Homo sapiens: one gene and its partners. Each later gene encodes a partner of the first gene's protein in a complex. Each region holds a gene or a part of one and is shown in the gene's direction. Other genes may lie near its edges. The genes, in order: NSMCE4A, NSMCE2 and NSMCE1.

Region 1 (10,342 bases):
TTGTCCTGGCATGGTGCAAACTCTAGAACCAGAACTCCTGTCTGGTTGCCCCTTCTCCATGGCTTCAGTCTTCATGGGGCTCTGATAACACTGCTTCTTCCTTCAGACCCTCTAGGCCTTGGAGTAGTAATATCTTCCCATGGTTGCTCATCCTGGGTACCTGGATTTGTTTCCTATGGCTGCTGTAACAAATTATCCCAAATTTGCCTACAGTTCATCTTTTTTTATCTTTTGGTTGCTGATGCTTTTGGTGTCATATCTAAAAAAAAAACTATCACCTAACCCAAGGCCACAAAGATTTACAGCTATGTGTTCTTCTAAGAGTTTTATAGTATTAGCTTACATTTAGGTCCAATCCATTCTGTGTTAATGTTTATATATGATGTGAAGGAAGGGTCTAGCTTCACTCCTTTGCCTACAGATATCCAATTGTCCCACTACCATTTGTTGAAAAGACTATTATTTTCCTATTGTCTTGGCACCCTGGTTGAAAATCAGTTAATCAGCTGGGTGTGGTGGTGCATGCCTGTAATCCCAGCACTTTGGGAGGCTGAGGCGGGCGGGTCACGAGGTGAAGAGATCGAGACCATCCTGGCCAACAGGGTGAAACTCTGTCTCTACTAAAAATACAAAAATTAGCTGGGCATGGTGGCACGCGCCTGAGGTCCCAGCTACTCAGGAGGCTGAGGCAAGAGAATTACTTGAACCTGGGAGGCGGTGGTTGCAGTGAGCCAAGACTGTGCCACTGCACTCCAGCCTGGCAGCAGAGAGAGACTCTGCCTCGAAAAAAAAAGAAAAGAAAAGAAAATCAGTTAACCATAAATGATATGTCTGGACTTTCAATTCCATTCCTTTGATCTATATGTCTATCCTTATGACAATACCACACAGTTTTGATTATACAGCTTTGTATTAAGTCTTGAAATTAAGAAGTCTGAATCCTGCCAAATTTGTCCTTCTTTTTCAAGATTGTTTTGGCTATTCTGGGTCCCTTGCATTTCCATATAATTTTTTTTTTTTTTAAACAAGGTCTTGCTCTGTCATCCATGCTGGAGTGCAGTGGCATGATCATAGCTCACTGCAGCATCAAATTCCTGGGCTCAAGCGATCATCCTGTTTCTACCTCCTGAGTCAGTGGGACTGTAGGTGTGCACCACCATGCCTGGCTAATGTTGATTTATATATACTTTGTAGAGACAGGGTCTTGCTTTGTTGTCCAAGTTAGTGTCAAACTCCTGGCCTCTAGTGATCCACCTGCCTTGGCCTCCCAAAGTGCAGGGATTACAGGTATGAGCCACCACACCTGGCTCCCCACATGAATTTTAGAATCAGTTTAATGCCTGTCTTCTGGTGATACCCTGGAAGGCAAAGGCAAGTACCTGAATTATCTGTGTGCCCTGCTGTGCTTTGTAGGGTGTCTAGCCTATGAGTACACCTCAAATATTTTTATTTATTTATTTATTTAGAGATGGAGTCTCACTCTGTCACCAGGCTGGAGTGCAGTGGTGCACCATCTTGGCTCACTGCAACCTCCGCCTCCCCGGTTCAAGCAATTCTCCTGCCTCAGCCTCCTGAGTAGCTGAGACTACAGGCGCACGTCACCATGCCCAGCTAATTTTTTGTATTTTTAGTAGAGATGGGGTTTCACCATGTTGGCCAGGATGGTCTCGATCTCTTGACCTCATGATCCACCCTCCTCGGCCTCCCAAAGTGCTGGGATTACAGGCATGAGTCACCGCGCCCGGCCCTCCCTCAAATACTTTTGAATTGAATGAGTTATTTCAGGGTTTTTTTGTTGTTGTTGTCATTGTTTGTTTTTTGAGATGGAGTTTTGCTCCTGTCACCCAGGCTGGAGTGCAGTGGCATGATCTCGGCTCACTGCAAACTTCGCCTCCCAGGTTCAAGTGATTCTCCTGCCTTAGCCTCCTGAGTAGCTGGGATTACAGGCGCCCACCACCACGCCTGGCTAATTTTTCGTATTTTTAGTACAGACGGGGGTTTCATCATGTTGGCCAGGCTGGTCTTGAACTCCTGACCTTGGGTGATCCACCCACCTTGGCCTCCCACAGTGCAGGGATTACAGGCGTGAGCCACTGCACCTGGCCTATTTCAGGTATTTTTGTGTGGAGCTTGGAATGAACTTTTGAGAGGTGACAGCGTGCTGGCAGCCCTCGCTCGCTCTTGGCACCTCCTCGGCCTCAGCGCCCACTCTGGCCGGCTTAAGGAGCCCTTCAGCCCGCCGCTGCGCTGTGGGAGCCACTTCCTGGGACCGAGGCCAGAGCCGGCTCTCTCAGCCTGCGGGGAGGTGTGGAGGGAGAGGCACGGGGGGAACCGGGGCTGCACGCTGTGCTTGCGGGCCAGCTAGAGTTCCCTGTGGGCGTGGGCTTGGCAGGCCCGCACTCGGGAGTGGCCGGCTGCCCTGGGCAGTGAGGGGCTTAGCACCTGGGCCCGCAGCTGTGGTGGGTTCGCGGGGTCCCCCAACAGTGCCAGCCCACCAGCGCTGTGCTCCATTTCTCGGCGGGCCTTAGCTGCCTCCCCGCAGGGCAGGACTCAGGACCTGCAACCCGCCATGCCTGAGCCTCCCCCTGCCACCGTGGGCTCCAGCGTGGCCCGAGCCTCCCCGATGAGCGCCGCCCCCTGCTCCAGGGTGCCCGATCCCATCAACTGCCCAAAGGCTGAGAAGTGGGGTGCAGGGCGAGGGACTGGCAGGCAGCTCCACCAGCCACCCTGGTGCGGGATCCACTGGGTGAAGCCAGCTGGGCTCCTGAGTCTAGCGGGGACTTGGAGAACCTTTATGTCTAGCTAAGAGATTGTGAATACACCAATCAGCACTCTGTATCTAGCTCAAGCTTTGTAAATGCACCAATCAGCACTCTGTGTCTAGCTCAAGGTTTGTAAATGCACCAATCTGCGCTCTGTGTCTAGCTGATTTGGTGGGGACTTGGCGAACGTTTATGTCTAGCTAAGGGATTGTAAATACACCAATCGGCACTCTGTATCTAGCTCAAGGTTTGTAAATGCACCAATCAGCACTCTGTGTCTAGCTCAGGGTTTGTAAATACACCAATCAGCACTCTGTATCTAGCTAATCTAGTGGACAGGTGGAGAACTTTTGTGTCTAGCTCAGGGATTGTAAACGCACCAATCAGCACCCTGTCAAAATGGACCAATCAGCTCTCTGTAAAACAGACCCATCGGCTCTCTGTAAAATTGACCAATCAGCAGGATGTGGGTGGGGCCAGATAAGAGAATAAAAGCAGGCTGCCCTAGCCAGTAGTAGTAACCCACTCAGCTCACTTTGCACACTGTGGAAGCTTTATTTTTTCGCTCTTTGCAATAAATCTTGCTGCTGTTCACGCTTTGGGTCTGCACTGCTTTTATGAGTTGTAACACTCACTGTGAAGGTCTGCAGCTTCATTTCTGAGGCCAGCAATACCACAAACCCACCGGGAGGAACGAACAACTCCAGACACGCCGCATTAAGAGCTGTAACACTCACCGTGAAGGTCTGCAGCTTCACTCCTGAGCGAGTGAGACCACGAACCCACCAGAAAGAAGAAACTGCGAACACATCTGAACATCATAAGGAAAAAACTCCGGACACATCACCTTTAAGAACTGTAACACTCACTGCGAGGGTCCGCGGCTTCATTCCTGAAGTCAGTGAGACCAAGAACCCACCAATTCTGGACACACTTTCACCTGGAAGAACGCTAAGTATTCCATTACAGAACACTGAGCTACAAGCAACAACTATGAAACAATGACCTGGTTTAAACCATGATTTATGGCTTACTTTACAGGGAGTCTGGAGGCATGTGGTTGATTCAGCAATTCAGCCATGTCCATCTTTGCTCTCCAGTGTCTCCAGCACTCTAGTCTTTCCTCATGCTTGTCACCTCGTGAGTACCAGATGCTGCCAATATGGCAGGCTCCACATTTTTTCTTTCAGACGTTGTTTCATTCTTGTCACCCAGGCTGGAGTGCAATGGCGCGATCTCTGCTCACTGCAACCTCCACCTCCCAGCTTCAAGCAGTTCTCTTGCCTCAGCCTCCCGATTAGCTGGGATTACAGACACGCACCATTATGCCCGCTAATTGGCAGGTTCCCCATTTCTTATGCCAGCCATCTCAAAGGGGGTAGGGGGTCAAGGGTTTTCTTTTCAGGAAGGTTTGTATTCCATCCAGTTGGGAAACCCTTTCACATCTCACGGACCCAGGTTGCATCACATGACCCTTGACCAGTCACTGGGGAAGGGGAATGACATTACCGTGACCTGGTTAGAGTGATCACGTTTCATCTAAGGAAGTAGGCACACACGTCCCCTTCAGGAAATACAGATAAGCAGGGATGGGTGAGGTAGTAGCTGTTGGACAGCAATGAACAGTGCCTAACTTAAGTTTAGTAGACATGATGCACAAAATGGAATATTTGTAGGTTGTGTAATAACCCAACTTATAATATTGGTCTTTTGAGAAAATGTGTTCTTAGCACCAAAGACAACTTTTGGGAAACAATACTCGAATACAATCCAAAATGCACGGAGTGAAATTCATACATTTATCTTTCAAAGTATACTTAACATAATTCCATCTTTCTTGGGCCCTTCAGGAGGTATTCTTAGAATCTTCTAGTTTGAGAATCAGAATCAGGCTGTGCCTGGTGGCCCATGCTTGTAATCCCAGTACTTAGGGAGGCCGAGGTGGGCGGATCACTTGAGGTCAGGAGATGGGGTTGCAGTGAGCCAAGATAGTGCCACTGTACTCCAGCCTCGGCAGAGCAAGGTCTTAAAAAAAAAAAAAAAATCAAATGTGAACATAGACTGTCATTAAAATCAACCCAACAATCCCATAGACTGTTTACTATTTTTTTAATAAACTTAGAAATTATCATTTCTAGTCTTAAGGTTGAAACTTACCTTTGTTTTATCTGAGTTCCTTCCTCAGGAAAGGACCTCCAGAGCCTCTCAAAAAGTATCAAAAAACTGAAACTCGCCATATCACCGCATTCCAGACAATGAGATGCCAAGCCCCTCATGCATCCCCATAGCTTCCTTCCCCCTCCCGAGTTCCTCTTTTCCCATACATTGTTACATTGCTTCCCTGCAACTGTATAAACCCTTAATTTTAGTTGGTCAGGGCAATGGATTTGAGACTGAGCTTCCAACTCCCTGAGTGCAGCACCCTACTAAAGCCTTCTTCCTTGGTAATAATGGTTTTCTCAGTGATTTCTGTGAGGGGGCAGCGGGTCCTAGAACAAAACCCTGGTGCTCTGGTGACATTCTGTTGTAGATATTTAGAAGGATGTTTACCTGTTAATTTGTTCTGCTATCCTCACAAAAAATGGTATTGCCAGCTGCACATAAATATTTGATTCATCCACCCACCCCTGTTCCCCACCCCCCCGACCCCAGCCATGATGGCACAGGGAAACTGAGGTCGCAGGTGAGCAGCAGACCGCGTCTGGACTCCACATCCCGCGCTCATCCTGCTCCACAGCAGGAAGCTCGTTCAACACACATGGACTGCGTGCCCATGTGGGTGCCAGGCTGCGGCTGTGTCCTGGGCAGGCAAAGGGACCTAGGGAAGATGCAGGTCCAGGAGGGTGGGAAAGTAGGGGCAGAAAACCAAGATTCTCACAGCCCTGCAGTGTGGAGTAAGAGCTCATTACACCTCTTGTCAAGGGAACAAAGGATCCCCGCCAGGCCCCTCTTGTGCACCCAGCGGTCCCCCCAGGCGCCTTGGAGACCCGGCCGGGCCCGTCGCCGGCCTCCAGCCACAGGCGTCGCTGTGCGCTCGCGCGGGCCCGGGAGCCGCGTTCCGCCGGGAGCAGGCGCTGGCGCAGAGCAGGGGTTTCAGTTTCTGGCGCGAACTTCCGCCGTTCCGAAGTTGCACGGTGAATTGGCGCTATGTCTGGGGACAGCAGCGGCCGCGGGCCAGAGGGCCGGGGCCGGGGCCGCGACCCGCATCGGGATCGCACCCGCTCCCGCTCCCGCTCGCGGTCCCCTTTGTCGCCCAGGTCCCGCCGCGGCTCTGCGCGGGAGCGCAGAGAGGCCCCAGAGCGCCCGAGCCTGGAGGACACAGAGCCGTCGGATTCCGGGGACGAGATGATGGACCCGGCCAGCTTGGAGGCGGAGGCCGACCAAGGCCTGTGCCGCCAGATCCGCCATCAGTACCGGGCGCTCATCAACTCCGTCCAACGTAAGGCGGCGCCTCCGGGCGGCGCGGGCCCGGACGGGCCGCTGTCCCCGCCCTGCGCCGGGCGCGGGGGGAGGGCACCGGAGGCAGGTGCCGGGCGGAGGCCCGGCGCGGCGTTAGTAGAGACGCGCCGGGTGCCAGCCCCTCGCCGCACCTTAAATTGTTGACAAAGTGCTCCCACTTTGTGGCTGGAGCCGTACGACCTTGGCGCGGGTCCCCGAGTGGCGGGCTGGAAAAGCTGGAGGCCAGAGCCGTTCGCGGACTCGCCCGAGCCCAGCCAGCCAGTGGGGAGAGGCAGGACGCGGACTCCGCGTGCTTTGATTGCGCCCGGCAGTCCTCGGCGTGGGCTCCCGGCCTCGCAGCGGCAGCTGCAGCTGCAGCGGCACGCGAGAGCTGTCAAATGCACGTTCTCGGACCCCACCCGGACCCGCGGAATTCGAATCTCTGGGTGGGTCCGCGCAACTGTGGAGTGGCCCTCCAGGTGATGGTGTGTATTGCTTGCAAAGTTTGAGAACCACTCAGTTATGGAGCACTCAGAGGCTGCAGCCGGAGTCCAGCCCTTTGGGTTAAGGTTAGAGGGAGCTAGGGTTTCCTTTTAAAATTCATGCTGCATAAAGGGTAGGGTGGCCTTTCTCCTTTTCCGGGTCATTTTGGTTAAAAAGATAAAGATGTTCGAAGTAATTACTCAGAGCGCAGGGGCCGGGGCTTGGCTTTACTGTTGCAGGTGATAACCTTGTCAACTGCTTATTAGTGAATGCTGAACAAATTTCCCAAAGTTTGTATTTTTAAAAATAGAAAACCGTGAGGACATACTGAATGCCGGTGACAAATTAACAGAGGTCCTTGAAGAGGCTAACACTCTGTTTAATGAAGGTAATTTGTTATTTTATATGTTATTTCGTGTTTTATGATACTTTTAATTAGTGTTACATAAGCGCCAAATTATTGACATAAAACAATTCCCACATTTGTAATAGTGCTTTCCCAGTTCGGGAACCGTTTCATTATAGCAATAATGCCATTTTTATTATGCACTTACCATATAATAAGGGCTTTACATGAAAATTTGGGGGTAGGTTCCGCAGTCTGTGTTAAGCCCCCAGTTGATTCTGTTGCCTCTTCAAGTTTGAGAACGTTACATGTGTTATCTTGTTTCTTTTTCTTGTGTTTACTGCCGTATCCCTAGTATACATTGGTTGAGTGGATGAATTACAGAACTGAGCTAGCCTCTGAAATCCTGTTTCTTTTCCTGTCCCATTCTGTTTTGCCTTCCTCAGCTCCCTGCTATTGGTCCACGTGTAACACAATGGAGGTGGCAAAGCCTGCAAGTGTACCTGCTGGTCTCCAGTCTGGGGTGTGTTGTGTGTGAGTGAGTGAGTGAGAGAGATCCCAGAGCACTGAACTCTAGGCCATGGGTGCTTTAAAAAATAACCTTAGTTTGAATTGAAAGCAGAGGCAGTGGTATTGGTAGCAGCTGTCTGTCTGCTTGGTGACAGAGGGGTACTCCCTGATGTGGGTACTTGGTCATAGAGCCACAGGACTACTACCCAGACCACTGTCCCCTCCAGCCCTCTCTGACGGGTCTGTGGGAACATAGGGGAGAATGCAGCCAAATATATCCTTTTTTTTTTTTTTTTTGAGGTTTGAGATGGAGTCTCTGTTGCCCAGGCTGGAGTGCAGTAGCACAATCTCGGCTCACTGCAACCTCCACCTCCCAGGTTCAAGCAATTCTCCTACCTCAGCGTCCCGAGTAGCTGGGATTACAGGTGTGCTCCATCACACCCAGCTAATTTTTGTATTTTTAGTAGAGACGGGTTTCGCCATGTTGGCCAGGCTGGTCTCGAACTCCTGACCTCAGGTAATCCACCTGCCTCCGCCTCCCACAGTGCTGGGATTACAGGCATGAGCCACCGCCCCCGGCTGGTTCCTCATATTCTTAAAGGACTAGAACGTATATTTTTAGTCATTGCTGAGGATGACTAGTTCTTTAAATGTCTCCTTTTATCACTTTATATATGCTCTCCAATTTCTTTGACCACAGCCTCCTTACCATTCCCCATCTTAGTCTACCGCATTTGCTAACTCTCATCAAAACCTTCAGGAACCGGGTGTTTCTCCTTCACCTGGTTAAATCCCTCTACTACCCTCTTAAGTTTTGTCTTCCCTTCGCAGCCTGGACTCCCAGTCTCCTTACTGTTAGTCTTGCTTGACTTGACTCAATTACTCCCTTGATATTTACTGTGCATCTAGTCAGTTCTTTATCCCCACATCATTCCCCCCTCAGCTATTTCCAGTATTTAAAGCAATATTTTAGAGCAAAATTATTCACTCATTGGAGCCCTAGGAGTTGCTCAGCAAACAACAGATGCTGGCATTCATGGATTTGATGGTCTCAGTTTGTAAAATAAATAAATAAATGAAAGGGGAAGGGAGTGGGGCAGGCAGGCACAGGATACTCATGGGAGATAAAGAAGGGATCAACAAAAGGAAACAGCGGGGCTGAGGGGGTTGCTTAATCAGACCCTGCAGGCAACAGAGAGTATGAAAAATAGTCTGGGAACACCTACACCTGTCGCCCAGGCTGGAGTGCAGTGGCATGATCTTGGCTCACTGCAACCTCTGCCCCCCCCAGGTTAAAGCTATTCTCCAGCTTCAGCCACCCGAGTAGCTGGGATTACAGGTGTGCACCACCATGCCCAGCTAATTTTTGATTCTTTAGTAGAGATGGGGTTTCACCACGTTGCCCAGGCTGGTCTCAAACTTTGGAGCTCAAAGTGATCCGCCTGCCTCGGCTTCCCAAAGTGTAGGGATTACAGGCATGAGCTGCTGTGCCCAGCCTGTTTCTGCATTAATTTAAATCTTTTTTTTCCATAGCTTTTCTTAAATCCCATGTCCTCTGTCAAGCCTTTTTTGAGTATCCGTCCTCGGGTCACTACCTGCTACCTGTAGACTGTTCATTTGGGTGGCTTTGCTGGGGTTGCCTGTGAAGCCATACAGAGGCATGAGCCTCCTAGTGCCAGCCTAGCACATGCCATGATTTTGGTTAGCAACTTTAGCAACTTACCTATTGCTTAGCAGCTTACCTATTGCTGTTCACAAACCACCATGCCAAGCACAGGGCCCTACATGTAGTGGGAATTTGATTTTCCTTACGTCAGCACACATGATCATCGTGATTAGGATGGAGGGAAAAGTGAGTATTAGACATGACGGGTTTTGCTCAACTGGAGTTATTTAAGAGATTGTGATTCAGCTAACAGTAGGAGAACTAGACAGAAAGCTGGCTTTTAGGAAGACTGGTCAGCTTTCATTAGAGATTTTGGTGAGTTGGGCACAGGAGAAAGTTTTTTTTTGTTTTTGTTTTTGTTTTGAGACAGCCTCTTGCTCTGACACCCAGGCTGGAGTGCAGTGGCGCGATCTTGGCTTACTGCAAGCTCTGCCTCCCGGGTTCACGCCATTCTGCCTCAGCCTCCCAAGTAGCTGGGACTACAGGCGCCCGCCACCACGCCCTGCTAATTTTTTGTATTTTTAGTAGAGCTGGGGTTTCACCGTGTTAGCCAGGATGGTCTCGATCTCCTGACCTCGTGATCCGCCCGCCTTGGCCTCCCAAAGTGCTGGGATTACAGGCTTGAGCCACCGCACCTGGCCAGGAGCACGTTTTAGAAGGAGATGTGTCAGTTGCCTATTGAGATTTTTTTTTTTTTTTAGTCCAGTGGGAAATCCTGGTAAGTAGTTGGAAATGTAGGGAAAAAGTCTATGGATAATGTGTATTTTGTAATGTGAATATTTTCTTTCTTTTTTGAATAGTGTCCCGAGCAAGAGAAGCAGTCCTGGATGCCCACTTTCTTGTTTTGGCTTCAGATTTGGGCAAAGAGAAAGCAAAGCAGCTGCGCTCAGACCTGAGCTCCTTTGACATGTTAAGATATGTTGAAACTCTAGTAAGTTCAAAGCTACAGACTCTGAATAAAAAATGTTCTGTTATATATTATAATTATTTACTGTGCTCATATCCATATGCAGATGATTTCACTTCATTCTTCTTTTTTGGTCTCAGATTCCTCTGTAGAGATCTTACCAATTTAAACAGACGAAAGTAGAACCATGTGGTGGAATCTTGGGTGGGGGCTTGGAGTAAAAATCTCGT
Region 2 (9,800 bases), on another chromosome or scaffold:
GCGTGGTGGCAGGCGCCTACAGTCCCAGCTACTGGGGTGGCTGAGGCAGGAGAATGGCATGAACCCGGGAGGCGGAGCTTGCAGTGAGCCGAGATCATGCCACTGCACCCAGCCTGGGTCACAGAGTGATACTCTGTCTCCAAAAAAAAAAAAAAAAGAGGGAGGATTCTGGGTTGTTAAATGGCATGCTTTCTTGCTCTTTCTCTTTTTTTTTTTTTTTTTTTTGAGACTGAGTTTCCCTCTTTTTGCCCAGGCTGGAGTGCAATGGCGTGATCTCAGCTTACCACAACCTCCGTCTCCCAGGTTCAAGTGATTCTCCTGCCTCAGCCTCCTGAATAGCTGGTATTACAGGCATGCACCACCACGCCCAGCTAATTTTGTATTTTTAGTAGAGATGGGGTTTCTCCATGTTGGCCAGGCTGGTCTCAAACTCCCGAGCTCAGGTGATCTGCCCGCTTCGGCCTCCCAAAGTGTTGGGATTACAGGCATGAGCCATCGCGCCCAGCCATGGCATGCTTTCATTAGTTTCCTTATCCATAAATGAATGACAATCGTTGTAATCACCTCATTGGCATATTTGAAATTTAAATAAGATACATGCAAAGTACTTAAAGTAGCTGGTACACAGTAGGGCTCAGTAAAATTATCCCATCATCATCTTCAAACTTGAGCCACTATCAACATCCTCTTCGTTTTTTTCCACCATTGCTCTATAGGCATGGGAGACGAGGACAGTTTTAAAGGAGTAAGATGAGCCAACCTGGAGTTTAGGAAGTTACTCCAATAGCAATGCAGAGATGGATTAAGGAGGCATGAGGCAAAAAAAAGTCAGTTAGGATGCTTTTACAGTGGTTTAAGTTATAGAAAATTAGAGTATAGAGATACAAGAGTGATTGTGGAGGTACAGTTAACGACATTTGACGACTGACTGAATGTAAGAGAAAGGAAGAAGCAGCGAGGGGTGGCTGACATTTCTCATCTGGGTGTCTAATACTGTCATTTGCTCATTAGCCTCCAGAGAAGGCATGAGAGAGGAACACTCTTATTGGAGGATTGTGATAGACTCAGCTCAGGTCATCCTAAATGCAAGGTCCCAGCAATACAGCCCCGTGGAAGTGTCCAGGAAGTGCAGCAAGTGTGAGTTTTGCAGTCAGGGGAGGACTCAGAACTATCGATGTGGATTGGGAGGTTATCAGTATAGACGAGTCAACCCGCTCAACTACCGTCACAGATGCAGCTCTGGAACAAATGCATTCACCAGCAGAGAGCCAGCAAGGCAGGACCCGCACCTCGCCTGTGATCTCCACAAGGCCAGAGCCCGACTTCGTTCTGCTCACTGTGATGCCTTAGCACCCTGGTGCCAACCCTCAAAAAACACTTTGTTGACCAATGAGAGGATCAATCAGCGGAAGAAGACCCCTAAAAAAGCAGTCTAAAATATAGCCAGGAGCCAGGAAGAGTGATAAGGAGTGGAGGCTCATGGGAACTTGTGGGCGGGGTGGGCAGGGTTCTGAAGGCCAGGTGCATTTGGGCAGCAGTAGATTAGAACTCAGGGCCTTCTTGAAACCAACTCCAGAAGTTTCTGATGAAGCATGAAGTCGTATCATTTCCCATGATGCACATTAGAGTGATGAGTATTTCTGGGTTCGCTTTGTTTAGAAATGTCCATGACACATTGTCTCATTTCTTCCTCCTAGATTGTTCTAGTTATGTTTGTTTTTTTAGACTGGAGTTCCAGGTCCATTGTGTTCTGGGCACTGCCTGAATTTTACTGTGCAAGCTTCAGGCCCTGGGAAGGCCTCTCTGCACTGGCTTGAGTCAGAATAATATTGTTGAGACTTTAGCCCCAGCCAAGCACGGTAGTTAGAATAATTTCCTAAAATATATCTGTTAACAATAAGCCTATTTATTCTCTTAAAAATAAAGCTGCCTTATGATTTCCTTTTTTTTTTTTTCGTTTCTTTTTTCTTTTCCTTTTTTTTTTGAGACAGAGTCTCACTCTGTCTCCCAGGCTGGAGTACAACCTCTGCCTCCCAGGTTCAAGCAATTCTCGTGCCTCAGCCTCCCAAGTAGCTGTGATTACAGGCACATGCCATCACACCTGGCTAATTTTTGTATTTTTAGTAGAGACAGGGTTTCACCATGTTGTCCAGGCTGGTCTCGAACTCCTGGCCTCAAGTGATCTGCCCACCTTGGCCTCCCAACCTTATGATTTTCATATATTAATATTTCTAACCTGACCACAGTCACTTTTTTGCTTTTTTGTTTGAGAACAGGAAACATATTTTTAAAAGTCATATTTAAGAGCATGTAGAATAAAATGAAATTGAATAGAAATGGGTCATTCGACAGCAGAACTCCAGCTTTGTGCTTGGAATTCCTGTTTCAACACTTACCAACAAGCCATTCAACCTTTCTGCCTCAGTTTCCTCATCTGTAAAGTGGAAATAACATCAGCATCTCACAGCACTTCAGGGGCCAAAGAAATGGTAGGGAATTCCATTCTAGGTCTGGACCAGCACATTTCTTGGCAGAAGAGTAGCAAAAGCACTTAGTTGAAAGCTCTTTTGGGAGCGAAGAGCGCTAAACAAATAGCTGTAGGGTTGTTAAGACCGAGGCTGATAGAGTTGTTATCACTCCCCGTGCTGCTTAGTGACACATTATTTGACTCAGGGGTTGTAAGATAGAATTACTGTCTGTGTTGAGGTATGACAGGAATCCCTCCCACTCAGATTTCCAGAGGTCTCTATAGACCTTCTGTCTATAGCTTGTAGACTAAACCTTGGAATTCTTGGGACCCAGATCCAGGAACTCCCAGAATCATGTACTTTTGAGCATTTGCAGAGGCCAAGGTTCCCCACAGCTCTGTGGGACCCCAAGACCCGGTTCCCTTTGCTCAGCAGTCACCTTTGTGTTTGCCCTGTGCTGCAGCGAAATGCTCTGCCCGGGTAGTGCCTGGAGGTGGGGACCCAGCCGCTCCTGCGAGGCCTGAAGGGCTGACTCCTGCACAGCGATGATGCGGCAGCTGAAGATCGGGTATTGCCACACTGAACTCGCTCACCAAGATGTCGTGGGATTAATGCCGAATGCTTACGGAGACAGTTGTTTCTCCAGAGGAGGCATGCCTTGATTCAGCACTGTGGCATGATGGCCTTCTCTTATCCTTTCTGCTTTAAAAACTTGTGTTTATTGGAGACGAAGGAGAAACAAGGTCCTTCCCAGTTCCAGCATCAACCTCGCCTCCAGGAAGTCTTCCCTGAGCCCTTATTCATGCTGGACAAAATGTCGTTAGCACCCCATGTCATGCCAACATTGTCAGTGCAGCTGGCTCCTCTCCACGAGCTTCTTGAGAGCGGAAGCTGTGGACTAGGGCAGGGACTGGTGCACGGCAGGACCTGAAGTGAACTCCCCAGTCCTTGACACACATCAGCCTGCTTATTTCTCAGCCTTATTGGACAGGCTTGTCCTCTGCCTTCATGTTCTTAAAGGGAAAAACTGAGGCACAGAGAATTTAGTCACTTACCCAGAGTGACACAGCCAGGGGGTTTAAGCCCAGGTCTTTCTCATTCTTGAGCCTGCAATTCTGTCAGTAGGCCATCCAGCTCCCCTTGGGAGGGCTATTTGGTTCATGCCTCTACCATCAGAGTCTATCTCCTCAGTGAACTCAGACCTTGTTTGACATGGCTCACTCTGGGATCCATCCCACTGAAGTGAAGGTGGGCGCCTGCTCTGCAGCTGAGTGTGTGGTTAAGTCCATCAGACATTCTCAGCATGCTCTCATGCACTGACTAAAACCATGATGTCATCAGGAAGTCCTCCCCACCTCACTCTCCACTTCCCTCTCCACTGCTTATTCACTGTCTGGCTATGAAAGTTAAGGCCTTTGCTGGGTAGAATGGAAGAGACCAAGGCCAGGCAGTCCAAAGCAGATATTCAGGGTTATGTTTTAAGGGAGGGTCATCCCAGCAACCTACTTGGAGTTGCATTTCAATGTCATGGAAGCCAAAGTTATGATACTTGGCTTTTCTAGTCACAAAAGTGTCTGTATCCTCTTCATGATCTTAGCTGCTTTTTTTCATACTTACAGACATAATTCACCAGGCACGGTGGCTCATGCCTGTAATCCCAGCACTTTGGGAGGCCAAGGCAGGTGGATCACTTGAGCTCAGGAGTTCAGGACCAGCCTGGGAAACATGGTGAAACTCTGTCTCTACCAAAAATTTTTTAAAAATTAGCCAGGCGTGATATTGTGCACCTGTGGGCCCAGCTACTCAGGAGGCTGAGGTGGGAGGATTGCTTGAGCCTCAGAGGCAGAGGTCACAGTAAGCAGAGATAGTGCCACTCCAGTCTGGGTGACAGAATGAGACCCTGTCAAAAAAAGAAAGAGGAAAGAGGAGAGAAAGAAAGAAAGAAAGAAAGAGAGAGAGAGAGAGAGAGGGAGGGAGGGGGAGGAGGGAGGGAGGGAAGGAAGGAGAAAGGAGGAGGGGGAGGGAAGGAAAGAAGGAAGGAAGAAGAGAGGAGGAGGAAGGAGAAGAGAGGAGGGCGGGGAGGGAGGGAAGGAAGGAAGGCAGGAAGGAAGGAAGAAAGGAAGGAGAATTCGCTTTGAGACTTCACAGCGTAGGGGGACAGGCTGGGAAAAAAATACAGATTTTTAAACTAGTGTAAAACATTTCTCCAGCCTTGCCCTAATGCAAAGCCAAATCATCAAAATGATGCATACCTGGGCCAAATCACCCTGATCCTCTTTCATATAATTGCCTTTCTGTAATTATGATTTAACACATCATGTACCTGAGTATGTAGGGCACTTTTTTTTTGTTTGTTTTGTTTTGTTTTGAGACAGAGTCTTGCTCTGTTGCCCAGGCTGGAGTGCAATGGTGCAATCTTGGCTCACCGCAACCCCCACCTCCTGGATTCAAGTGATTTTCCTGCCTCAGCCTCACGAGTAGCTGGGATTACAGGCATGCGCCACCACGCCTGGCTAATTTTTGTATTTTTAGTAAAGATAGGGTTTCGCCATGTTGGCCAGGCTGGTCTCAAACTCCTGACCTCATGTGATCCACCTGCCTCGGCCTCCCAAAGTGCTGAAATTACAGGTGTGAGCCACCGTGCCTGGCCATATTTTAATATTTTAAAAATAAATACTGTTATTAAGCATATTATATTTCATTGATTAATACCCCTCTAATGTAAAAACTCCTTGATCCACAGATCAGGGCCAAGAAATACTTTCTTTCATGTTGGACTGTTGGGCTTCCTACCACTAGACAAATTGGAGCTCCCATGACCAACTTTCTTTCCTTCTGGTTTGCATCTTTACTGTGGTTTGCACATTTGTTGTTTTTGGTCTTAATATCCTGTGCTTTATGGAGAGCTGTCTCAGATCACTGGGCCAGAGCTCTGTGTGGGCAGGAACCATGTATTTGTATTTCACAGTTGCATGCTTAGAACCTAGCATAGGGCTGATCCCTAGAAGAGTCAATTAATGCATGAATGGGTGCATGCCTGTGTGGGATATATGCAAGATAGAAATAGATCCAGAACTTTAAAACTTCTTGGAAGAATGATGATGAGGGAACACATGATAGTCACAGGGGATCTGGAAGGGAATTAACATTATTGAGCACAGAGGATCTGGGAGGGAATTAACAGTATTGACTGTCACCTTGGGAAATAAGGGTTCTCTCCCCATTTTAACTCAGAGGCAAGGGAGGCTCAAGAGGGTTATTGTGAATTGCCTGTGGTCTCATAACTAGCAAGTAGGTGGTAGAGAGAAAATTCAGACCTAGGTTAGCTTGACTCCAAACATTGGGCCTCTAATCTACCAAAATTTGGTTCACTTTGAGAACCAGATTCTTTGAGAAGAAATAGGTGGTTTCATCCAGCCCACTGCCCTCAGAGAAGACCACATCGAAGCAGAGCCGTGGCTTGTTTCCACCCCTTTGTGGGTGACTCACTGATGTCTTTAGCTGCAGCCTTTCCACCGAGTCCCAGTGGCCCACTCAGTCTCTCTTCTAGGAGGGCTACTGGGCATCCATTCCAGAGGAAACAGATACCAACCAGGACTGTGGTTCTGTGCTGCAGCCTGTTTTGCCCCATCGTTTCCCACTGTGATGAAGGGCACTACCAGTCACTGATCTACCCAGATGAAGCTCGCTTCTTCCCTTTCGCTTATGCTCCACAGCCACTCCATCGGCAAGTCCTATAGGTTCTATGGTCAAGCATGTCCTGAAGCTGATCGCCATACCACCCTCAGCCGAGCTGCCCTCACCTCTCTCCTGCACCCTGCAGGATCCCCCATGCTATTTTCCCTGCCCTTCTCTTACCTCCCTGTTTTGTATTCTCCATAAGCAGCCAGAGTAACATTTTCCAGATGTAAACCAAACACACTCCTCACCCATCTCAAAACCTTCCAGTGTTTTGTCTTCATATTTAAAATAAAATCCAAGTCCAGGCACGGTGGCTCATGCCTGTAATCCCAGCACTTTGGGAGGCCGAGGCAGGTGGATCACTTGAGGTCAGGAGTTCGAGACCAGCCTGGCCAACATGGTGAAACCCCATCTCTACTAAAAATACACAAAATTAGCCAGGCATGGTGGCAGGCGCCTGTAATCCCAGCTACTCAGGAGGCTGATGCAGGAGAATTGCTTGAACCCAGGAGGCGGAAGTTGCAGTGAGCTGAGATCACGCCACTGCACCCCAGCCTGGGTGAAAGAGTGAGACTCCATCTCAAAATAAATAAATTAATTAAATTAAATAAACTCCAAAGCCCCATTGGCGCACTGACCTCACTTCCAACTGCTCTCCCTCTTGCCTGGGTCGCTGCAGCCACATAGAGCTTGCTGTCACTCCAGGGCACCAAGCTGGAACGTCCTCAGCACTGCACTTGCTACTGCCTCAGCCCAGACCACATGCAGACTTGTTCCCACGCTTCATTCTGGGTCCTGCCCTAGATAAGATGTGTTCGGTGAGGCATGCCCTGAGTCCAGCCAGTGAAGCTGTGGCCCCAGCACTCTCTCTCCCTGACCCTGCTTTGTTGCCCTCATAGCCCATAAGGTGACCTGAACTTGCAGCAAGCATTTATTTGGTTCCCTAGTGGTTGCCTGTCTTCCTCATTAGAAAGATAGCTCATAGGCTGGGCGCGGTGGCTCACGCCGGTAATCCCAGCACTTTGGGAGGCCGAGGCGGGCGGATCACGAGGTCAGGAGATCGAGACCATCCTGGCTAACACGGTGAAACCCTGACTCTATTAAAAATACCAAAAATTAGCCGGGCGTGGTGGTGGGTGCCTGTAGTCCCAGCTACTCGGGAGGCTGAGGCAGGAGAATGGTGTGAACCCGGGAGGCGGAGCTTGCAGTGAGCCAGGATCGTGCCACTGCACTCCAGACTCCGTCTCAGAAAAAAAAAAGAAAGTTAGCTCATGATAAGGCAGGCACTACTCACATATCGCTTGTGTCCCCAGCACCCAGACAGGGCCTGGCTCAGGTAGGGACTCAGTGAATAAATGAATGAGCACAGCTTGGTCCTGATTTTGACACTTTTCCTTTTTCAGTAAAATGCCTTACTTAAACACTTGAGTATAAAAGAAGTTTCTGCTTAAGGCAGTAAAGGGGACTGACTTGATGTTCTTTCTTTCTCACAGTTGCCCTCAAATTGGCTGTAGCCACACGGATATAAGAAAGTCAGATCTTATCCAGGATGAAGCACTTAGAAGGGCAATTGAGAACCATAACAAGAAAAGACATCGTCATTCCGAGTAGGAAAAGCCACCTGCCTGCAGGGACACCAGCAGCCTACCTCCTACCCCAGCTGTCTGTTGAGAGCAGTGCTGACCCCAGCAGTTAGGGACTGGCTGCATAGCATACTTGTTGGGGGTAAAACTTGTTGCTTTTATGTGTGCTTGAAAACATTTTTCAAAGTTACACAACAGAAATGCAATCATATTGTTTATTTTTAAGTGTTCTATAATGTTAAATAAAACTTTGATCATCTGCAGTGTCCTCCCTGCATGCCTCCTGATGTATGGATTGTTCCAGAGGTGCAGGCTTTTCCATTTCAAGGACATCAGACTGATTTTTATAATAGTTTTGACTAAAGAATGTCTTTCAGCCAGGTGCAGTGGCTCATGCCTGTAATCCCAGCACTTTGGGAAGCCGACGTGGGCAGATCACTTGAGGTCAGGAGTTCAAGACCAGCCGGGGCAACATGGTGAAACTCCGTCTCTACCAAAAATCCAGAAATTATCCAGGTGTGGTGGTGCGCACCTGTAATCCTAGCTACTCGGGAGGCTGAGGCAGGAGAATCACTTGAACCCAGGAGGCAGAGGTTGCAGTGAGCCGAGATCGCACCACTGCACTCCAGCCTGGGCGACAGAGCAAGCCTCTAAAAAAAAAAAAAAAAAAAAAAAAAAAAAAAAAAAAAAGAATGTCTTTCAAGTGATATTTGAAATTGAAACATATAAAAACACCCCTATTGGGAGGCATTTTCTATGAGTATAGTAAATAATAGCATTTGGTTATAAAGCAAAGTCAGTTTACTTTCTTGTATTTACATTGTATATTGACAGTTCCAAACATATAAATGCTTTTATTGTCATTCTGAATGGAATAGAATGCTCCAGTGACTGGCTAATCAGTGCATTGCAGTGATGATTGATGCCTATAATGAATACTTTGCTGCAGCCCTCCAAGAGCCTAAAGTACCATCAACAGTAACCACATTCCAGCTGCTCTCTGTTTTTCTAGATGGTTCACTGCAAGTGACTTCATCCCTCTGGATGTTGGTGTCTTCAGCCATAAAGTGAAGGTGTTCAACAAGATGCTCTCTAATGTCTCTAATCAACAAGATGCTCCCTAATGTCCTGTGACCCCTGAGAGTCTATGGACTGACACCAGCAGGGTCTTTAAATTGAATGTCTTCAATTATATTCTAATTGTGTGATGAGCACCAATCTATTGTCTCCATTAGCAACCTTTTATCAACCTTACTATTTAATTAAACCAAATTTGAAGCATACCCTGATGGCACTGGAAAACCAAGAATAGCTAATAATAGCTAACATTTATTGAGTACTTATTTACTGTATACCAGGTGCTATTCTAAGTGCTTTACATTATATTAACTCCTATAATCTTCATAGCCCAGTGAGAGAAGGACAGTTCTTACAGATAAGGAAAAGTAGGCACAGAGAAGCGAAGTCACCCATGGAAAGTCAGAGATGGAACTAGGAAATGGCTGAGCTGGGACCAGAATCTGGAGAGCCCAGTCCTAAAATCTCCATTCTTAACTCCATACTCTCCTCCTCCCTATTGACATAATTTAGAAAATGAAAATATATTCGAAGCCCACATTTAGAACCAAAGCTTTTGTAAATAAGTGTGTGTGTGTGTGTGTGTGTGTGTGTGTGTGTGTGTGTGTGTGTACAAAAAGTCTAATTAAAATGGAGGCCTATGCAGGAGGATCACTCGAGCCCAGGAGTTTGAGACCAGCCTGGGCAAGATGGCAAGACCTCATCTCTATTAAAAAAGAAATAAGGCCGGGCACAGTGGTTCACACCTGTAATTTCAGCACTTTGGGAGGCCAAGGTGGGTGGATCATCTGAGGTCAAGAGTTCAAGACCAATTTGGCCAACATGGCAAAACCTCATCTCTACTAAAAATACAAAATTGGCCGGGCACAGTGGCTCAAGCCTGTAATCTCAGCACTTTGGGAGGCCGAGGTGGGCAGATCACGAGGTCAGGAGTTCAAGACCAGCCTTGCCAACATGGTGAAACCCTGTCTCTACTAAAAATGCAAAAATT
Region 3 (10,039 bases), on another chromosome or scaffold:
AGACATCTGTGCTAGGGCCAGGGCCTCGTTCCTCTGTCCTCATAGCTGGGCCTCCCATATCACTGACTGGAGGTTGGTGGTGTGCAGAGAACCAGCCTCTGATCCAGCGCTACCTACAGAAAACCTGATGTTTTGATATTTACTGAAGGTTGTGTCTTTTTCTTCAGTTGGTTCTGGATTCTGAAAAGGAGTGGTGTTGTTAATTAACTCCTAAGTCTTCAAAGTGGTATTTCTAAGACTGAAAGTAGTTGTCTCAGAATCTCACCATACGGACTTTATTCCGCACTCTTTATCATGACCATGGGCTCGTAGAATATTGAGGTCAAAAGGATCCTCAGACATGCCTTTAGCCCAGTGTATCCCTACAGATTGGCAAACTGTAGCTTCTCCACCAGGGCTCCTGGATCAGGGGAGAGACCAGGGGCAGAGCTGTGGACATTAGCTGTCCTGAAGACCTGAGGCTGGGAAGCAGCGATCTGGTGCAACCTTAGCGCTTAGTGGACATCATAAGGATCTTGGGAGCAAGCAAGAGACCCCAGTTCTGGTCAACTTAGAAAGGAATGTGTCGGGGCTGGGCACGGTGGCTCACGCCTGTAATCCCAAAACTTGGGGAGACAGGTGGGCAGATCACTTGAGGTCAGGAGTTTGAGACCAGACCAGCCAACATAGTGAAATCCCATCTCTACTAAAAATACAAAAAATTAGCCAGGTGTGGTGGTGAAACACCTGTAGTCCCAGTGCCTGGGGAGGCTGAGGCAGGAGGATCGCTTGAACCTGGGAGGTGGAGGTTGCTGTGAGCTGAGACTGTGCCACTGCACTCCAGCCTGGGCAATGGAGTGACACTCCATCTCAAAAAAAAAAAAAAATGTGTCGGGATGCTATTGGGGGAGGGACACATAGGACTCATTGGTGGCCAGGTGCACAGTTGGGGATAGGCAGGAAGCATGGCATCACCTCATGGCCAGAGCAGCTGGCCCTCTGTAGCTTCTGGGCTGGAGCCACCTCCAAGCTTCCTTTTGTCCCTTGCTCAGATTGGGAGAGTGTCTGGCTGATAGGGGTTCTCTGTCTACTCCTGGCTGCCCTAATCTCTGGTCCCTTCAGCTTTCTGCTTTCTGGTTCCCTGAATATCATACCTGGAATTATTCTCTCACCAAAACCGCAAATGTAAGAGAAAGACAATTGTAAAAAAAAAAAAAGAAAAAAGGCGAAGGTCTCGTTAGGGAGGGACATGGCTGCTGGGCTGGCAGGTGTCACCAGCTGACTCCTGTCTTGGGGCGGCGGCTGGACACAGTAACTGGAGTGCCACGTGATGAGGAAGGAAGTGCTGCCATGGGAGGACAGAGCTGGGAAGTGCAGCTTATCTGGTTGGGGAAGGCCTGTACGGGAGGCTGCCAGAGGATCAGGAGGCTGGGGTCCAGCCAGGGGTGGTGGTAGAGAAGCGGGAGGGAAGAGGGTTCTGGACATGTGTGAGGCTGGAGGCGAGACTGTGTGTGGCTGTTAGAGATGAGAAGTGGGGGAGAGGCTCACGCAGGGCCCCACAGAGCGGGAGGGCAGGATGGGCTAGAGCCCACACCTCTGCTTCTGGCCCCATGCCACCACGCCACCTCTGTTGCTGCTGAAAGGAGTCAGTTGAAGGGTTTGGGGGTGCTGAGTGTAAGAGAAGTTTCTTCTCAGGTCACGATTAAGAGGAGCTGCAAGGGCGCGGGGCCTCCGTGAGAAACAGTTACAGGGTCAGCGATGGAGATCGTGGACATGACCCTGATGCAGGAAGCGTGTGGAAGGAAAGAGGGCGATAGCGGAGAGAACGGGAGCGCCCAAGCAGTGGCTGGTGTGTGCAGTGAGCGAGTACAGTAGGAGGAAGTGGTTGGTCAGATGAAAATACAGCAAAACATTCATGGTTTCTGAAAAATGAGGCTGGACGCCAAACCAGAGGTGGTGTGGAGAGGGGAAGGGCAGAGAGGGCTGCTGGCTCCCTCCCTGCAACGGGGTGTCTGGAAAGTCCAATAGATCAGAATGCTTCTCATCTGCCCACAGGGCACATTGTTCTCAGTGATACCCAGGAGGGGCCTCGTTAGTGGAAAATGTGAATTGTCACTTTCAGAGAGGTGGGACTTGCCCCAGTGTCACACTGGGTGGACAGGGTTCCTGTCACTCACTCCGCACTGAACGAGGCTTTTTGATGTCTGGGCCTCTTGCACCTGAGCTGCCCAGCGTTGGCTCCCCTTGGGGGTGGAAAAGTGTGTCTGGCCAAGTCACTGGCACAGGCAGGTACGGAACAGCTCGGCTCCCACGCCAGCAAAGAGCTGCCTTGCATGCTGTGGAAGAGGAAGACAGCACCGGGGGCAGAAGAGAACATTTCCTGGAAAAACAGGCCATCCAAGGTGGCTGCCGCAGTGGAGGGAGAGGAGTTTTCAGAAAGGAGGGGCCCGTGAGCAGGGGCATGGAGGCAGGAAGTCAGGCCATGCCTCCCTCCTGATGCCTGCTCTCCAGCCGCCGAGGCCAGATGTCATTGTCATATGTTACGATCTCACCACATCCATGTTCCACCCACTTACTATGACTACTTTTTAATTTAAACTGCCTTTTAAAAACTTAACTGAAAGGGAAGATTAGCTCCTCGCTGAGCATGGCACATTAGTGTCACTGCCCTGGGCTTTGTTCTCAGCTTTTCTGGGCCCCACAGTCTGATCCTCTGACAGAGCTCATTGGCCTGGGTTTTCCTTGACTCTTTCACACGGCCACATCCTCCATTGTCACCAGCATGATCTTCTGTTGTTTTTTTTTTTAACTTTATGAATCTTGAGTTGTACGGGTAGCTTAGAAATGCCTCTGTCTAATAAGAAATCAAACACAGACATACAGCACGAGTGCCCTGTGATGACCCTTCGTTTAGTCCCTTCCTGGCGATGGCCTTGGTCGTCAGTCCAGTGGGTAACCTGCTGGGCCTTTTCCTGTGGGACTGTTTCATTGGTTCTGTTTTTGTTTCACACATGAATGTATCATATTGTCCATTTTTTCTTGCAGTTTTTTTTCCAGAATGATTTTCTAAGGCATGAATCTTTTGAAATTATTTATTTTAATACATAAAAACAGTAGTGAAAACAATAATACATACTCTTGCTTTAAAAAGTTTCACAGCACAAGCTGGGCGTGGTGGCTCACGCCTATAATCCCAGCACTTTGGGAAGCTGAGGTGGGCGGAACACTTGAGGTCAGGAGATCGAGACCAGCCTGGCCAACATGGTAAAACCCCATCTCTACTAAAAATACAAAAATTAGCTGGGTGTGGTGGTGCATGCCTGTAATCTCAACTCCTCGGGAGGCTAAGGCAGGAGAACTGCTTGAACCCGGGAGGTGGAGGTTGCAGTGAGCCAAGACTGTGCTACTGCACTCCAGCCAGGGCGAGAGCAAGACTCTGTCTCAAAAAAAAAAAAAAAAAAAAAAAAGTTTCACAGCATAAAAGGGACACAACGCTGGCCATGTCCTTCCACTGCTTCCAGTGCTCAGAGGCTTCCTGGTGCCACAGGAGAAAGGCCCTGCTGTCCCCGGCCACGGGCTCCTGTCCTCACCGCAGCCTCTCTGTCCTCCTCAGCTGAGCCCCCGGCAATAGTGTGGGTGCCCCCTCCTCAGACTGATGGACCTGGATGGTGGCCCCTGGGCTGTGAGCATCCTGCTGGCAGGGCCAGGGGAGGTGGGCGACAGAGAAGTCAAAGCCCCGGCCTTGTGGTGCAACTCTGGGCGAGTCAGTTCACCTCTCTGCGTCTCAGCCTCTTCCCCTGTGCCCAGAGAGCTGCTGGAGGGTGGATTCATGACGACAAAAGGTGCCCAGGACAGGGCCTCTCCATGCTGAGGGCTCGCTGCAAGCCACCCTTCTCACCCCGTTTGTTGTTATTCTTACTGTTCCAGCCCAGGACCCAGCACAAGCCTGGCATGTAAGTGAGGATAACCCGACATTGAATAAAAAGAGAAAGGAATAAAGCTCCACCTAAGATGTGTGGGGACATACAGGGACAGAGGCCTCTCGCGGGGCACTGGGGATGCGATAGAAGGGCTGAGATGGGATAGGATGTTTGTGCGGCGGGAGCTCACGCAGGCTCTGAGCACATCATTGAGTAATGCGCTGAAGGTGCTGATTGGGACTCTCATCAGGAGGCAGCGAGCAAAGACAGGAAGCCCGCGGCAGCCTCCGTGGTTGCAGATAGCATCTCCCTGGCCCTCCTGCCTCACAACGCCCTCCATCTGTTGTCTGTTTGTCTTCCAAGTACTCCAGGAAGAAAGAAGCCACGTGGCATTGGCGTTCACCCAAGAGGCTGCAGCCTCCACCCATGTCTGGGGTTGCTGTCCCCTGCGTTGAGATGGGATGGAATGATTCAAGCAAGCTACATTTTTTTGATGAGGCCCCCTGGTCACCCCCCTTTTTTTGGTCTGTTTATTTCCAGGCAATGCCACCGTAGATAAGTTGGAGGACTTCATCAACAACATTAACAGTGTCTTGGAGTCCTTGTATATTGAGATAAAGAGAGGAGTCACGGAAGATGATGGGAGACCCATTTATGCGTTGGTGAGTGCCCGGCAGAGCCCTCTAGTGGCATTTTTGAGGAGCTGGAACAGGGCCCAGGCAGCCTGTGTTTGCTTTGGTTTGATTTCTCTTTTGGACAGTTCTTTGCAAAGAAGTCACTCCAAATGTATAGAATATTAGGAATAAAGGGAGAAAATGGTTTTTTATTTAGAATAAGACATAGAAGCTATGAAAAGAAACTCTGTAGGAGTGTCAAGGATTGCAGGCCATGTGGGTGGGGCCTTCAGTGGTTTTCAGATTTACTCTCACAGGTAGGGATTTGGGCCTCATCCCTCCTGCCGCCGACTCCCCGTTCACCCACGTGATGTGTTCAGGATGCCACAGCCAGAATGGCAGAGCCAGGAGTGAAATACAGCCAGGGTGAAATACAGGAGTGGGAAGCTGACATGCCCCATCCCTGGCTAGGAGACACCTCAGCTGGTCAGAGGACATCTGGCTGCTCCCAGCCAGGCTCACACTCAGAAAGGGGCACTCTAGTCCAGGGTTGCCCAAACTCAATTCCCTGGAAAAAAAACATTACAGAGTCAAAGAACTGTGGAAATGCTGGTCAGACATGGCAAAGCAGATTTCCTTGCTATCAGACTTCTCAGTGCTTTTTTTGCATTTGAAGCTCCATTAACATGCAGACAAATCTCCCAAATTTATCTGAGTTTGGAAAATACTGCACACCCTTTGGAGTTCTGAAACTTCTGAGGGCCCAGCATGTTGGCTGAGCTAAAGAATAAAGTCTGTAATATACGCCTGGTTACAGATCCATCCCTGCGGCCCGCAGTGCCTGGATACAGGAGCTCAGTGACTGGCCAGAGATGGAGGAGGGGAGGGAGGGAGAGCCAGCGACACGTTAACCAACACGCAAAGAGCACAGCCTGACTGTCGTGCTGACTTATTTCTTAGGTGAATCTTGCTACAACTTCAATTTCCAAAATGGCTACGGATTTTGCAGAGAATGAACTGGATTTGTTTAGAAAGGCTGTAAGTAGAGTAATCCCCATTGCCCATTGGGTGGGCTTCTTATGGGAAAGTTCTGTCTCCGTCATTAGCAGTGGCAACTGCAGTGTTCAAGGATCACTGGGGGGACATGGGCCACCATTGCTGTCTGAGAAAAGGCTTTGCAGGGAGATGTCACTGTCTACCCATCTGGAACTCACAGCTGCCAGGGGGTCCCCATGGCTGCCTGAGAAGGAAGTGCTGGGCCAGGTGTGAGCCCCAACTGGATGGGCAAGAGCAGGGCTTCACTGGTAGTAACAGGCGTTCCTGCCTGGCTGCTCCAAGTGCCATCTGGGAAAGGCAGCAGCAGCAGCATCGCCTGGGAGCTTGTTAGAAAGGCCCGGTCCCAGTCCCCACTCTAGACTGCTGAGTCCGAATCTGCATTTTTGCCAGGTGCCCACTGAATCCTTTGCACGTGCACATTTGACAGGTACTGTTCTACCAGGCTTCAGAGCTATTTGCTCAGCCTTCTGCTCAAACACATGGCTAAGAGTGGTTCTCAGGCCTAGATGCAATGATAATAACTGCAGAGGTGAAAAATAATTCAGACATTTCAGCCCCACTCACGATCTGTTGAATCCAAATCTCTGAGAACCAGGCGGTGGAATCATTCCTTTTAGATCTTCTCCTGGGGATTATTAGCCACCAAGGTTGAGGAGCAGGTGCTGAGCTGAGCACACACCTGCGTGTGCAGGAACCTGTCTTCCCCAGCGGTTCCTGCCTGCCGTGTCTCTCTCTCACTGCCTCCGAGGCCAGCCGTGAGGCAAGGCGACCCTCTTTGATTTGGGGACATTAAGATGATTTATTTGGGAGGATGTTATAGAAGTGACCTCTGAGTCAAAAGAACTGAGCACAGTCCTGGCTCTTGATGCACATTAAATTGTTTTCCCGGAATACCATGCCAGTGTACAGTTCTGCCTGTGATCTGAGTGGTTTTACTGTGCCTCTGCCAGACTTGGTATTACCATTTAAAAGTTATTTTTGCCATTTTAATAGATGAGCATGATACCTGCTCTTTCTTCCAGCTGGAACTGATTATTGACTCAGAAACCGGCTTTGCGTCTTCCACAAACATATTGAACCTGGTTGATCAACTTAAAGGCAAGAAGATGAGGAAGAAGGAAGCGGAGCAGGTGCTGCAGAAGTTTGTTCAAAACAAGTGGCTGATTGAGGTACTGTCTCATGGTTTTTCCAGCCTGGTTCACTTTTTCAAGTGAATAACAGTTTTTTCTCCAAAATCGTACTTGTAGCCAACTGATGTCTGAGGAGCCCGGCCTTCTCGGATCCCTTATCTGCTTTCATGCATTCCAGCAGTGACCCCGTGGGGAGGACTTGGGCCTCACTCCTCCTGCCTCCCACTCCCCGTTCACCCAGATGATGTGTTCAGGATGCCACAGCCAGAATGGCAGAGCCAGGAGCCGCGCCCAGGGACTTGGGCCCCAGGATCAAGGCTCTAGCCCACAGACTGCAAGGCAGGGCAGTTCCGTGGCTGAGAGTGTGGCTCTAACATCTAACCCGGGTCTGAACCCTGAGCCAGGTGACCTCATGTTCCTTGTAAGAGGGGAGTCGTTGTTTCCCCTTCGGGGCTGGGTGTGTCAGGAGCGGGAATGGGACCTCACAGTAATGTGCTCGGTGCTAGGCTGGCTGGCTCGCGGGGGAGGCGGCAGAGGAATTGGTGACATTACCACTGTTGTTTTTGTCAGCAGTGAGTTCCTCAGGGCCAGTGCTTAGAAGAGGCATAGACCTGCTTCAGGAAAGGAGCTGTGACATCTGGGACAGGCCCCACTGCAGCTCCAGTTTCTAGATGTTGCCCCCACCCCCACGTCTAGTCCTGCTGAATGGAGCAGAACAAATGTTTCAGTTCTTTTTCCACAAAAGGCACCCCTGTTTTCAACAGCTCAGTGTTTGCCGAGTTGACCACAGCTGTGCCTCCCAGGTGCTTGTGCCCATGTGTGTTGAGGACGCACTCACGCCGGGTCCCCGCTTCCTCACTTGGTGGTCGGACTCGTGGCCAGAGGCTGCTGCTTGTGGCTGCAGCGATTCTCCGCTTCCTTTTCAGGAAGGCTCGCGTCTGGGTTGGGGAAGTCTGTGTTCTGAGTTACTGATTTCTATTTAGGGTGGGCCTGTCCCAGGAACCTGACCCGAATTCAGTTCCTGGGGTACCTGATGGGAAGACAGGGTGGAGAGGTCATGGGGTGAGGGCAGGGCTGGGAGCTCCTGGTGAGTGCAGGATCTGCTGGGCGCGTTCCCGTATGTCATGTCTTGGAGGCTGTCTGCTGCCCTGCAGTGGCTCCATAGCTTAGTTTTTAGCTGACAGCTCAGGGGTCTGGATGACGTCGGACACCCTGAGAGTGGCAGGGCCGAGTTCAGGCCCCGGTTTGGGGACTGCAGCTCCCATCAATGGCTTTGTCACAGTTGTTCTTGCCCTCCAGGCTGTATTTGGCACTAGGGAATGTTCTAGGGCTACTCAGGTTATAACTGACCATTCTCGCTTGTGGTGCAGCCCCTCTTCAGGCCAATTTTTTTTTTTTTTTTAAGATGGAGTTTTGCTCTTGTTGCCCAGGCTGGAGTGCAATGGTGCAATCTTGGCTCACCGCAACCTCAACCTCCCGGATTCAAGCGATTCTCCTGCCTCAGCCTCCCAAGTAGCTGGAATCACAAGCATGCGCCATCACACCCGGCTAATTTTTCTATTTTTAGTAGAGACGGGGTTCCTCCATGTTGACCAGGCTGGTCTCGAACTCCTGACCTCAGGTGATCCGCCTGCCTCAGCCTCCCAAAGTGCTGGGATGACAGGCGTGAGCCAGCGTGCCCGGCCACAGGCCAAGTTTTTTAAGGGTAGGGGTTATGACCTCTTCATGGCTGGTCCCCATTGCAGAATGTAGTGCCTGGCACCTCAACTGCTCAATAAATGCTTGCTGAATGGATGACTGGACAGGTGGATGAGGTTGCAGAGGAACAGCATTTAAAACTTACAAAAAATGTTACAGGAAATATCTGCTCATTACAGGAGGATTAGAACATGTTGAGATGCATAAAGAAACCCACTGAAGTCACCTGTTATCCCAGACCCTAGAGCCGAGTGCCCCAACATCCCAGTACACAACACTTTGCACCCTGCTTTGCACCCAAGAGCACCATGCCTAGCACATGCTGCCACCATTGTGCATGGCTTGCAGGGCGTGCCCCCAGCTTTATGGTTTGACTTGCCCTTTGTCTGCCCTTGGTGTCTGGAGAGGGCGGTGGTGGATAGGAGAGGCCCCGCCCTGGAGTCTGTGGCGGTGAGCTGTGGCTGCAGGCGCTTGTACTCTGTGCCTTTCTCAGTTCGGTGGCAGTGCTGGCACCACCTTCTGCAGGGCGCCTCTGAGCTCGAGGGAGGGTGGACAGAGGATCCGGGAGCTGCCACCTGCAGGAGCGCTGCAGAAGTAGCAGGGGGCCCTCAGCACTGGCGCTGGGCAGTAGCCCTAGAGAGGCTTCTTGTTGACTGCCTGGCCTGCTGGGGCCCTCAGGAGGACGAAGGAACGAAGCTAATGTGGCAGGGGCTGTGTGGTGAGACTCCTCCAGGTTCCTCCGCTGCCTGTGGTGAGCAGCTTCTCGTTGCGGAGACTGTTTCCTCATCTGCAGGATGGGGACATTGCCAGCTCCAGGTGTTTTCTGTGAGGGTCCAGTGCTCTCTGACCTACATGGCCTGGTAAGGGTTGCCTTGAGGTCTGCGGCACTCTGGAGGAATCACTGAGAACCGGGGCGGGTGCTCACTTACCCAGGACAGGTCTTCCTAGGGCAGCACCTCGATCAGAGAGACCACATGTCAGTGTCTGATCCTTGGCCTCTCAGACACAGGGCTTCCCACAGAAATAGCCAGGGGCCCACTGACAAGGCCCTTCCAGGTGGGTATATCACCCCAAGGACACGTCACTCCTGGACAGCCAGTCCTGTGTGAGACTGGCCCGGCATGGAGGTGCTGAGGCAGCTGTCCGTCCAGGAGAAGGCCCAGGGGTGGTAGGTGGTTGGGGTCAGCGGGGAGGCCTCTGAGAGCAAGCGCGGCTCATGGGAGCTGGGCGTCTGCTGATCGGCGCACCTCCATACACCCCAGGACTGCTCCCTACACGAGGTCCTGACTTCCAAGTGTTGTGGCGAGGCGCCTGGGAGATCACCTGGGCTGTCGTCGTCTTTGAGGGCTAGGGCATCCCTCCTGCCCCTCCCCTGATGGGCCCTCAGAGGACTGAGTGGGTCATGAATGGTGAGCCTTGGGTGCAGTTTCAGGCACATAGCAGGTGTTCAGTAAATGCAGCTTGGCTGGGTGCAGTGGCTCAAACCTGTAATTCCAGCATTTTGGGAGGCCAAGGCGGGTAGATCACTTGAAGTCAGGAGTTTGAGACCAGCCTGGCCGATATGGTGAAACCCTGTCTCTACTAAAAATATAAAAAAGTTAGCTGGGTGTGGTGGCGGGCATCTGTAATCCCAGGTACTCGG

The links.
Region 2: NSMCE4A (region 1) and NSMCE2 share a complex: the UniProt entries of both Homo sapiens proteins name them as parts of the SMC5-SMC6 complex.
Region 3: NSMCE4A (region 1) and NSMCE1 share a complex: the UniProt entries of both Homo sapiens proteins name them as parts of the SMC5-SMC6 complex.

What each region holds. Positions count from the first base shown.
Region 1 is NC_000010.11:121,970,733-121,981,074, reverse strand, and holds the start of NSMCE4A (non-structural maintenance of chromosomes element 4 homolog A), read left to right. Parts: upstream 1-5,857; 5' UTR 5,858-5,909; coding exon 5,910-6,201; exon of another isoform or gene 6,202-6,208; intron 6,209-6,269; exon of another isoform or gene 6,270-6,769; intron 6,770-6,993; coding exon 6,994-7,071; intron 7,072-7,245; exon of another isoform or gene 7,246-7,552; intron 7,553-10,005; coding exon 10,006-10,136; intron 10,137-10,342. UniProt on the Homo sapiens protein: Component of the SMC5-SMC6 complex, a complex involved in DNA double-strand breaks by homologous recombination. The complex may promote sister chromatid homologous recombination by recruiting the SMC1-SMC3 cohesin complex to double-strand breaks.
Region 2 is NC_000008.11:125,359,126-125,368,925, forward strand, and holds the end of NSMCE2 (E3 SUMO-protein ligase NSE2), read left to right. Parts: intron 1-2,931; coding exon of another isoform or gene 2,932-2,992; exon of another isoform or gene 2,993-4,429; intron 4,430-7,642; coding exon 7,643-7,760; 3' UTR 7,761-7,995; downstream 7,996-9,800. UniProt on the Homo sapiens protein: E3 SUMO-protein ligase component of the SMC5-SMC6 complex, a complex involved in DNA double-strand break repair by homologous recombination. Is not be required for the stability of the complex.
Region 3 is NC_000016.10:27,229,700-27,239,738, reverse strand, and holds part of NSMCE1 (non-structural maintenance of chromosomes element 1 homolog), read left to right. Parts: intron 1-4,439; coding exon 4,440-4,561; intron 4,562-5,473; coding exon 5,474-5,551; intron 5,552-6,591; coding exon 6,592-6,738; intron 6,739-10,039. UniProt on the Homo sapiens protein: RING-type zinc finger-containing E3 ubiquitin ligase that assembles with melanoma antigen protein (MAGE) to catalyze the direct transfer of ubiquitin from E2 ubiquitin-conjugating enzyme to a specific substrate.